2 separate regions of the Homo sapiens genome follow, and region 1 is reported to be linked to region 2. The links are microRNA targets in miRTarBase. Many come from high-throughput screens and were not tested one by one. Region 2 holds a microRNA gene; the other region holds the end of a gene's coding sequence.
The links. Region 2 holds the annotated microRNA hsa-miR-138-1-3p (GCUACUUCACAACACCAGGGCC, at 1,463-1,484, opposite strand). A microRNA usually pairs through its seed, bases 2 to 8, with sites in the 3' UTR of a target mRNA and lowers its output. Matches are read on the target gene's strand: a 7mer-m8 pairs with bases 2 to 8, a 7mer-A1 pairs with bases 2 to 7 and ends in A, and an 8mer does both.

Region 1 (5,376 bases), not on the chromosome of region 2:
TTTGTATACCATAAAGACAAATGTTGAATAAATAGCTGTTCTTTCAATTTCTTTAAAAAAAAGATCCAAGATGGGCATTATATTCATTGTATGTTTACAAATTCTTACATTTTAGTTATTCTTCAGCAAAAAATCCAGATGGATGTTTTTTTCAGAAAGTGTTGAATGGGTTTACAAAGTTTTTTTGTAAGGAACAATATTGCAAATTACTAAAATTGTATTTTTATAGGCTGTTTGCTCTTTTGTGGATATTGTGCCTGTCAGGATTCTTGAAGGTAAGTTATGTTATAATGGTTAATTTGAAATATAATTCTGGCTGTGTCAATATAAATAACCTCAAAAAGCTATAAGAGATACTCTTATGATAGGACACTTAGTTATAATTATCCAGAACATTTGTATATAGAATGATTATAGAATTATCCCTTTAGAAAATCAGGGTCTTGTGTTGGTCCTTATTATTGACTGAAAAAAAGATGAATGAATAAATGAATTAAATTACATAGAAAGAGGCCCTTGCTTACAACTGCCAAGCTCCAGTGGCACATTTAATTGTGAAAAACGAAATATATTTTTAAATAATTTATATGTGGAATGCTGTTTTTCAAAGTGGGTAATTTAGTTTAATGGAATATAACCACTCATTCATCCTTCCATCCAACAGAGGCAAGTTTGGACTTGCCTTGCCTTTTTCTGCTTTTAACATTTGTATTCAAAGTTGTACACCATTGTCAAATGTATAATGTAGCAGTAAATCATTAGAGGAAGTAAGTTAAGTCCTGTTAATACTGTTCTCAAATATAAACATATTTCTTTAATCTCTTCCCTATAGTTTTTTTTTTATAGTGAGATAATGGAGTTGGTCTTAGCCGCTGCAGGAGCCCTTCTTTTCTGTGGATTCATCATCTATGACACACACTCACTGATGCATAAACTGTCACCTGAAGAGTACGTATTAGCTGCCATCAGCCTCTACTTGGATATCATCAATCTATTCCTGCACCTGTTACGGTTTCTGGAAGCAGTTAATAAAAAGTAATTAAAAGTATCTCAGCTCAACTGAAGAACAACAAAAAAAATTTAATGAGAAAAAAGGATTAAAGTAATTGGAAGCAGTATATAGAAACTGTTTCATTAAGTAATAAAGTTTGAAACAATGATTAAATACTGTTACAATCTTTATTTGTATCATATGTAATTTTGAGAGCTTTAAAATCTTACTATTCTTTATGATACCTCATTTCTAAATCCTTGATTTAGGATCTCAGTTAAGAGCTATCAAAATTCTATTAAAAATGCTTTTCTGGCTGGGCACAGTGGCTCACGCCTGTAATCCCACCACTTTGGGAGACCGAGGCAGGTGGATCACGAGGTCAAGAGGTTGAGACCATCCTGGCCAACATGGTGAAACCCCGTCTCTACTAAAAATACAAAAATTAGCTGGATGTGGTGGCACACACCTGTAGTCCCAGCTAGTCAAGAGGCTGAGGCCAGAGAATCGCTTGAACCTGGGAGGTGGAGGTTGCATTGAGCCAAGATCACGCCACTGCATTCCAGCCTGGTGACAGAGCGAGACTCAGTCTCAAAAAAAAAAAAAAAATTTTTCTTCCTAAATTAGCCACGCATAGCAGTTCGTTTGCAATTCAAAAATAATTTTATGAGTAGATAAGAATATCAGTTTACCGTTGTCTAGTGATTTTATCTAAATTTTCCCTGAATTATTAAGTAATATTGATTTGGCTTTGATTCTGAAGTAGTAGAGTCTTTACCATTATAAACTGTAAATCTCTTTTTGCTTAAAAGGAAAAAAATGTAAAAGATAAATTCCACAGAGAATTATTCAGTATTACATTAAAATGTTAATGACTTTTTATTTTAAATTGTACTAACATTAAAAGTTGGCCTGAAAGTCAGATATTATGACAAAATTTGACATTAATTGTTTTTAAAGTATAGATTTCATTTGAAATTATAGAATGGTAATGTGGTTAGAGGACACCAAAGATACTGGGTCATCAGCCATTAAGTATATCTATTTCAAAATTAAAATATTTGGGAAGTATTGTCTTATGGTTTCATTTGTGTTGGTCCACACAGCATGTTAGGTCAGTGTACCAGTAACCAATGAAATTTTGTCAAATTCCCTCACTGTACTAGTTTGTTAGGCTGCCATAACAAAGTTCTACAGCTTGGGTGGCTTCAACAAGAAATTTGTTTTCCCACAGTTCTGGAGGCTAAAAGTCCAAGATCAAGGTGTTAGCAGGGTTGGTTTCCTTTGAGGCCTTTCTCTTTGATTTGTAGATGGCCATCTTCTCCCTGTGTCTTTAAATGGCCTTCCCTCTGTACTTGTCTGTGCCCAAATTTCTTCTTCTTATGAGGACACCAGTCATACTGGATTAGGGCCCACACTGAGGACCTCATTTTTCCTTAATTATCTCTTTCAAAACCTATCTCCAAATACAGTCACATTCTGAAGTGCTGGGATTAGGATTTCTTCATGTGAATTTTGGGGGGACTACAACTCAGCCCATAACACCCCCTAAGTATTTCCCAGCTATTAAGTTGAAATAAACTTGTAGTATCAATTTAAGCTTGCATGATTTGTAGATGTAAATTTGACTTTATTATCATTAACTGTTGAATTATCAAGTGTATGATGCAGTGCAATCAAGTTTAACAGCATGGTGGGTAAGAGCATCTAGATTAGAATCATTGCAGTCCAACCAGGTGCTTAAGTGACATTTGGCGAATTATTTATCCTTCCTTAGGTCTTCTGCCTCATCTTCATAATGGGAATAATGATGTCTAGCTTATTGGGCTGTTATAAGGATTAAATGAGATAGATAAATAAACTAAACTAAGTGCTTAATTAATGTCAGCTGATGGTATTAATACCATTTTCTTTTTTTTTTTTTTTTTTTTTTTTTAATTTATTTTTTTATTGATAATTCTTGGTTGTTTCTCACAGAGGGGGATTTGGCAGGGTCATGGGACAATAGTGGAGGGAAGGTCAGCAGATAAACAAGTGAACAAAGGTCTCTGGTTTTCCTAGGCAGAGGACCCTGCAGCCTTCCGCAGTGTTTGTGTCCCTGATTACTTGAGATTAGGGATTGGTGATGACTCTTAACGAGCATGCTGCCTTCAAGCATCTGTTTAACAAAGCACATCTTGCACCGCCCTTAATCCATTTAACCCTGAGTGGACACAGCACATGTTTCAGAGAGCACAGGGTTGGGGGTAAGGTCACAGATCAACAGGATCCCAAGGCAGAAGAATTTTTCTTAGTGCAGAACAAAATGAAAAGTCTCCCATGTCTACTTCTTTCTACACAGACACAGCAACCATCCGATTTCTCAATCTTTTCCCCACCTTTCCCCCTTTTCTATTCCACAAAACCGCCATTGTCATCATGGCCCGTTCTCAATGAGCTGTTGGGCACACCTCCCAGACGGGGTGGTGGCTGGGCAGAGGGGCTCCTCACTTCCCAGTAGGGGCGGCCGGGCAGAGGCGCCCCTCACCTCCCGGACGGGGCAGCTGGCCGGGCGGGGGGGCTGACCCCCCCCCACCTCCCTCCCAGACGGGGCAGCTGGCCGGGCAGAGGGGCTCCTCACTTCCCAGTAGGGGCGGCCGGGCAGAGGTGCCCCTCACCTCCCGGACGGGGCAGCTGGCCGGGCAGGGGGCTGACCCCCCCACCTCCCTCCCAGACTGGGCGGCTGGCCGGGCAAAGGGGCTCCTCACTTCCCAGTAGGGGCGGCCGGGCAGAGGCGCCCCTCACCTCCCAGACGGGGCAGCTGGCCGGGCGGAGGGCTGACCCCCCCACCTCCCTCCTGGACAGGGCGGCTGGCTGGGCAGGGGGCTGACCCCCCCACCTCCCTCCCGGACGGGGCGGCTGGCCGGGCAGAGGGGCTCCTCACTTCCCAGTAGGGGCGGCCGGGCAGAGGCGCCCCTCACCTCCCAGACGGGGCGGCTGGCCGGGCGGAGGGCTGACCCCCCCACCTCCCTCCCGGACAGGGCAGCTGGCCAGGCTGAGGGGCTCCTCACTTCCCAGTAGGGGTGGCCGGGCAGAGGCGCCCCTCACCTCCCGGACGGGGCGGCTGGCCGGGCGGGGGGCTGACCCCCGACCTCCCTCCCGGATGGGGCGGCTGGCCGGGCAGGGGCTGACCCCCCCACCTCCCTCCCGGACGGGGTGGCTGCCGGGCAGAGACGCTCCTCACTTCCCAGATGGGGTGGCTGCCGGGCGGAGAGGCTCCTCACTTCTCAGACGGGGCAGCTGCCGGGCGGAGGGGCTCCTCACTTCTCAGACGGGGTGGTTGCCAGGCAGAGGGTCTCCTCACTTCTCACACGGGGCGGCCGGGCAGAGACGCTCCTCACCTCCCAGACGGGGTCTCGGCCGGGCAGAGGCACTCCTCACATCCCAGATGGGGCGGCGGGGCAGAGGCGCTCCCCACATCTCAGACGATGGGCGGCCGGGCAGAGACGCTCCTCACTTCCTAGATGTGATGGCGGCTGGGAAGAGGCGCTCCTCACTTCCTAGATGGGATGGCGGCCGGGCGCAGACGCTCCTCACTTTCCAGACTGGGCAGCCAGGCAGAGAGGCTCCTCACATCCCAGACGATGGGCAGCCAGGCAGAGACGCTCCTCACTTCCCAGACGGGGTGGCGGCCGGGCAGAGGCTGCAATCTCGGCACCGTGGGAGGCCAAGGCAGGCGGCTGGGAGGTGTAGGCCGTAGCGAGCCGAGATCACGCCACTGCACTCCAGTCTGGGCACCATTGAGCACTGAGTGAACGAGACTCCGTCTGCAATCCTGGCACCTCGGGAGGCCAAGGCTGGCGGATCACTCGCGGTCAGGGGCTGGAGACCGGCCCGGCCAACACAGCGAAACCCCGTCTCCACCAAGACCAGTCAGGTGTGGCGGCGCGTGCCTGCAATCGCAGGCACTCGGCAGGCTGAGGCAGGAGAATCAGGCAGGGAGGTTGCAGTGAGCCGAGATGGCAGCAGTACAGTCCAGCTTCGGCTCCGCATGAGAGGGAGACCGTGGGGAGAGTGAGAGGGAGAGGGAGAGGGAGAGGGAGAGGGAGACGGAGAGGGAGAGGGAGAGGGAGAGGCCCCCTTACATTTTTGCACGCTATTAATACCATTTTCAGTTCAAAGGTGGAATGGACTGATTGTGACTAAAGATTCTGTATAAGCAAAAGTAGATCTGACATTTTTAAAATGTAAAACAATGCCATTCTTTTCACTAAATTATTTTTTATTTAGAAAATATAGTTATTTTCCATAAAAATGTTAACATGTAGTAAGTTTATCCTTTCTAAATGACTTAAATTTTCCAAAAAAAATTGTTTTAATTTCTGATAAGATCAATATAATAAGCG
Region 2 (5,376 bases):
TTTTAAAAACATTCTTTATAGAGATTAGGTCTGGCTATGTTCCCCGAGTTGGCCACTGGAGATTCTGATGGAGCAGGTGCATGGTGGTCCCTGGGATCCTGCTTTTCCAACATGCTGAAGCTGCCACCCATGGACCACACCATGAGTGGCTCTAGCTTGGACTCCGTTGGTCGTAGGGGAGTTGGTAACTGGATGAATTCTTAGGAGACAGCAAGAAGCCCTTTCTGAAAACTGGGACTATTTTGCTTTGAAGATATTTGTCCCTAAACATAATTTAGTACAAATTTCAGAGATGCCCTTAACGATATAGGGATGGAGTGAGGGATAGAACTTTACAGAAGTAGACTCACCCTCCATAATTCTAAGGTGATACAGATGCAGGTGGCTCTGGTTAACTCAGGCTCTATGTAACCTGGGTGCTATGCAAGGTTTGCATGGTGCTTGTTTTTATCCGTCTCTCTGGTTTTCAGAGCAGCAAGAACCCTATACAAACAGACTATAGACTGGGCCTGAGTTAATCAGAGTGGCTCTGGATCTTTGTCCTGTAGAAAACTAGAGAGAGGAATATCCTCCTTTTTATTAGCGTTATGGAAAGGACACCAGCCAACCCAGCCACTCTATCTTGAAAACTCTTGCTTGGGCTCTGAAAAATGGTGATGTCACATATAAGATTTAAGTTAGGCACAAAATACTACTCCAACTCTAGAGACCTCCATTAGTTTTCCAGCTCTGCTGGGTCCATGGCTGTAAGGACCTGGGGAAAGGAAGCCCATCTGTCAGCACAGGTGATGGCAAGTATTACCTTTGATGGAGTGTCTGGCAGATCAGTGCCCTAGGAACAATCCCATGCTTGGTTCTCGTCCAGCCCTCAGGTCACTGGGACATGCACTGATGGAGAGCTGTGGAACTCTCCCTGGCCAAGAAAGGTGTTTGCTTTCCAGGGACCCTGGGACCATCTAGGAAGTGGATGCATTACCTGCATGTGTGGCTACAAAGAGCCTTCCTCTCTCCAGGAGGCCACCGTCCTATTACTAGGTCCTCCCTTCCCTCTACTTTGCCCTATTCAAAGCTACCATCACCAAGTATCAAAACAAAGGTCCCAACTCCGCAACCATTGTGTGTTTTGGCACCTAGGAGGAAATGTTCAGTTGAGTGGCGCTTAACCCTCCTGATGGCCCATAACTTCATTTTCACAGTGGGAAACCTGGTAGCACCATTTTCTCTGTAGGAAGCTAATGTTACCAGGAGTGTCTTTTTCTTTAAAAGTGGAGCATTTGTGTTGGGGGATAAACAGCAGCCTCAGGAGGCCAGTGTCTGCAGGGGAGCTGCAGCAGCCAGCCCAGAACTGGAAAGCCGCGTGCCTGGGTTCTGGAGCCGAGGGTCCTCTGTGACGGGTGTAGCTGCCTCGCCAGAGGGCGCCCTTGCGGGTTCTGGAGCTGGAATGCTGCCTGTAGTGTGGTGTGGCCCTGGTGTTGTGAAGTAGCCGTTCTCTGATTGGCAACGGCCTGATTCACAACACCAGCTGCCCCACCACACCATGCCAGGGAGGTCTCTGGGGCAGGCCGATGGGCGTAGAGATGCCTTTGTGCTGCTGCTGCCGGAGGTGGAGAGAGGACAGAGAACAGCCAGAAGTGAGAACCGGGAAGCAAGCATATGCTAACATTTCACTGCCTTCCCCAGCCCCACCTGAAAGACTTTTTTTCGTTGTGCCTTTTGTGAACTTCCCCATCCCATAGGGGTCATGGGTGGGTATCCATGGCTCCAAGGAGTCCCGGGTCCTGAACACAAACTTACCTGTGTGTTGGTATTTCTCTGGGAAGAGGATCTGCCTTCAATAAATGCTCAAAGGGAAACACAGCCCTCCACAGCTTAAGTATGTCCAGTGTGGGCCTTCATAGCATTTGATGATCACCATACCTCCCAGAACAAAGTTTTTTCCCCACCAATGCTTTTCTGGGAGAAATGCAAGGAATCCCATTACTGTGTTGCCAAACACAGAAACCAGAAACCAGACATGGTTCTTACTGCATATTCTGAGTAATTTCTTTCCCTCGGCTGCCCCTCACCCCTCCATTTGTATGCTGTCCAGGGTCCCCAAACCTCCAAGGCCACGCTTGGAGTAGCTTCCATGTCTACTGAGGATGATCAGGGTCAAAATGGAACCCTTCAAGGATGCACAGCAATCTCCCTGCTCAGTCCTCTACAGAGTGGGGAACACATTCCAGATAAAAAATAAGGGTGACCACCGAGGATTTGAGGCAGTCAAACAAACCAACCAAAGCTGAGACTGGCTGAAAAGAAATCAGGTAGCCAACATGGACACACTTAACCATCACGGCGCCTGTCCTTCCATCAGCCAGTGACCCGCCAGGGTGCTTCCTCCCCTGGCTTCAGCGGGTCCAGGATCCTGAATGTCTGTACTACGGAAACCCAGTAGTAAGATCACTTGGGAGCTCTCCTTTTGGTAGCTGCCTGGATTTTATCACCATTATGAAATTATATAGCATAAACTTGATGTGAAAATAGCATTTGAAGTTTAAACCCTATTTCCAGGTGTCAATAAACACTTTAAATGAACAGCTCTTTGGCCCAAAATGGCTCCCGCATGCTGTGTGGTTCTTAGTTACCCAATCAAGAAAAATCACATTTCCCACTTTCTGCCATCTATCTTGGAACCCACTTTATTTTAAGGACATAAACTTGGCAACTTCCTAGTACTGGATATGGCATAGAAGTTCTGCCAAAGTTCTTGCCAGAGTTGGGGGAAGCAGAAACTTTGAGTAATATATCAATCATAGCTTATCACCAGGCCACATAAATCACTGTGGTCTTGGAGTTCAGAAATGTCTGGATTTTTCCTATCTGCAATCAGTGATTCTCTGCTGGGACATTAGGCTATAATCTCTACACTGGGGCCTCTGGCCCACAGAATCCCAGGCTGGGAATGTAGGTTGGGAACACTAGATAAATGTGTGTATTTGATGAGCATTGGTGTTGACTAAGTTAACATGGCTGGCTTTCCAAGCATCAGGTAGAGACCTGGAATTTTTTCTTTCCCATGGGGCTGAAATTTCTGCGGACTGTCTTGAGGACCAATAACCACTCACTTTGAGAATGAGCAAGTTCCAGAAAGTGGGATTAACTCCTTGTAAAAAGTTGCTGACCAAGAGGGTACATGGGAAGGTCACGCTGGTACCAGGTAAAACCTGTACAAACTCCAAGAAATTAGACAACACAAACCCACATCCTGGCGCTATCCCATCTCTGTGTCTGAGGGGCAAAAGGTGACTCAGGAATAGGTGAGAAACTGGGGCCATGAACAGACTCATCTGCAGCCAACTCCACTTTGTGGTTCTGTCGAGAATCCGCTAGTGCCCAAGGGGATACAGAGAGATCAATAAATCATCAATAAATGGCCATCATGTTTTAACTTCCAATGCTTGCAAGGACTTGGCACCTTAAAGGGCAGGGCCAGGCCTGGCACAGGCCCTACCCCCTCTTCCCCTAACCCTCCCTATTCTCCTCCTCTCTGTGCTTTCTTAACTTCTCAAATGAACCATGCTCCCTCTCACCCCAGTGCCCTCACACAAGCTGCTTCCTCTGCCTGGAATGCCTTTTTCCCAGTTCTGCATGTTGAATACCAACTCCTTCAAGCTTCAACTCCAGTCACTTCCTGGACCTCCAACCTCAGACCAGACCTGACTCCTCTGTAACATGCTCTACAGGTAGCTGGTCCTCTTCCTTGCACTTCTCATGGCATGTGAGTGAAGTCTCCTCCAACTTCAACACTGGGTTCCCAGCGTTGGCCATGTGGGAGATGCTTGATGAATACTGGTTGGATGAATGAATGATTTCAACCAAGACTCAATGGCCCAGTTATTCTTTTCTAAGTGCTCAGATGAATCCCTCAGGAGAATAAATATGGCACCAAGTATTTTAGAAACATACATGGTGCTATTCTGTAATGAATAATTTTACTTCAATAGACTGTCAGACCTCTTAACTCATCTTCCTGACTCTAGGCTAACTTCATGCTGATCTGACTCACCCTCTCCTAAACTCCCCATTGCCCCAGGATAGAGTGAGTCCCAGATCCTGCAGCCTCTTTTCCAGCATGACCCTCCCCGGTGGTGCAGTGGTGCCCCAGCATACCACATGTGCATGCTTCTGTGGATCTGAACCTGACTGGAAGGCCCACACCCCTTTCTATCGAGAAAATTCCTCTTTCTGCAGTCCCAGTTCTGGAGCTAGCCATCAAGGAGGCCTTCCTTGCCCATTGCTCAGCTTGCACTCTTGGCCTGGCCTCTGACTCTTGTACCTTTTGTGTCCTTCCATTACTACTTACATCTTCAGTCTGTCTTAGTTGATGGTGAACCTGAGGACGGAAGCCATCGTGGAGTCGCCTGGCAGGTCAACACTCACACAGCATCTGGAACACAGGGGCCTTCAGCCTGGATGTGCTTCCATTCCATAAGGAGTTCCTGCAAAGCAGGGGGTGTAAGGGCACTATGATAGTAAAAATCTGTTCTTTGTGTCCCCTGTGAATCATCAGAATGTCCAGAAAGTTCCAATATTTTGCCATATTAAGTGCATTTCTTCATCTCCATGGCCACCCAAACTCCCAGTCCAGACCCCTGCCAGAGCAGGGGTCTTCAGGCTGCATGTGGGCTGGCTGAGTGCCAAGGAGTTAACATTCCCAAGGAGCATCAACCAGTGACGGACGGGGGTTAGTGGATAAACACCCGGCTCTCTGGCCCCCTGGGTGGGATAACCCTGAGATGTGTTCTACACCAGCTCACAGAGGTCCGCATGTGCCAGCAGCAGTAACCTGATGGATAACCTTTACTGGCTCCCTTCCTCAGTCTCTTACAACGCTTCCTGGACTACTGCCCAACACTCAGCAGTGCAGTTAGTGTCAGTGTGAAGTGTATTCAAGTCCACTCATGGTTTTGAATGGGTGGATGTTATGCTGTTGCCAGGATGGGGCCAGGGCGAGAGGAGAGAGGCACCCTCCGTGCTGATCCTGCTCTCGTCTGAGCTAGACCATGGGTGCTTCCTGAGATTCTGCATCTTGGACATCTTGCCTGCTCACTCCAGACCCCCCCGACTTTCAGGAAATCAGAATATAAAACTCAGATAAAACAACCTATCCCAAGTAGGTGTTTTCCAGAGTGTGCCGTATCTATATTTCTTCACTGCTTTTTCATAGACAATCACCCTCTAAATGGAGGACCTTTTGGCTTCCAAATTCTGAGGTATTAGGATCATTCTACATGGTCAGTAAAGCATACATGTTATTGTAGGCATTTAAGACAGCATGTCTACTTTAAGATGATGGCAAAAAAACCAAAAGGCAACCTGTAAAGCTTGTTTGTT

Region 1: miRTarBase lists TMBIM4 as a target of hsa-miR-138-1-3p. Seed matches in the 3' UTR shown: 7mer-m8 at 1,751-1,757.

What each region holds. Positions count from the first base shown.
Region 1 is chr12:66,133,623-66,138,998 of GRCh38, reverse strand. TMBIM4 (transmembrane BAX inhibitor motif containing 4) reads left to right here. Exons shown (of 7, transcript NM_016056.4): 6 at 230-275; 7 at 833-3,153. The coding sequence ends at 1,039. LLPH-DT (LLPH divergent transcript) reads right to left here. Exons shown (of 2, transcript NR_125724.1): 2 at 4,550-4,947. Among named protein-coding and RNA genes, the nearest start is that of LLPH-DT, 5.6 kb to the right of the region's middle.
Region 2 is chr3:44,110,382-44,115,757 of GRCh38, reverse strand. It overlaps MIR138-1 (microRNA 138-1), which reads right to left and starts at 1,546; the gene lies at 1,448-1,546. LOC124909489 (a long non-coding RNA gene) reads right to left here. Exons shown (of 5, transcript XR_007096256.1): 4 at 4,346-4,481; 5 at 1-1,594. RefSeq lists an enhancer at 1,002-1,501.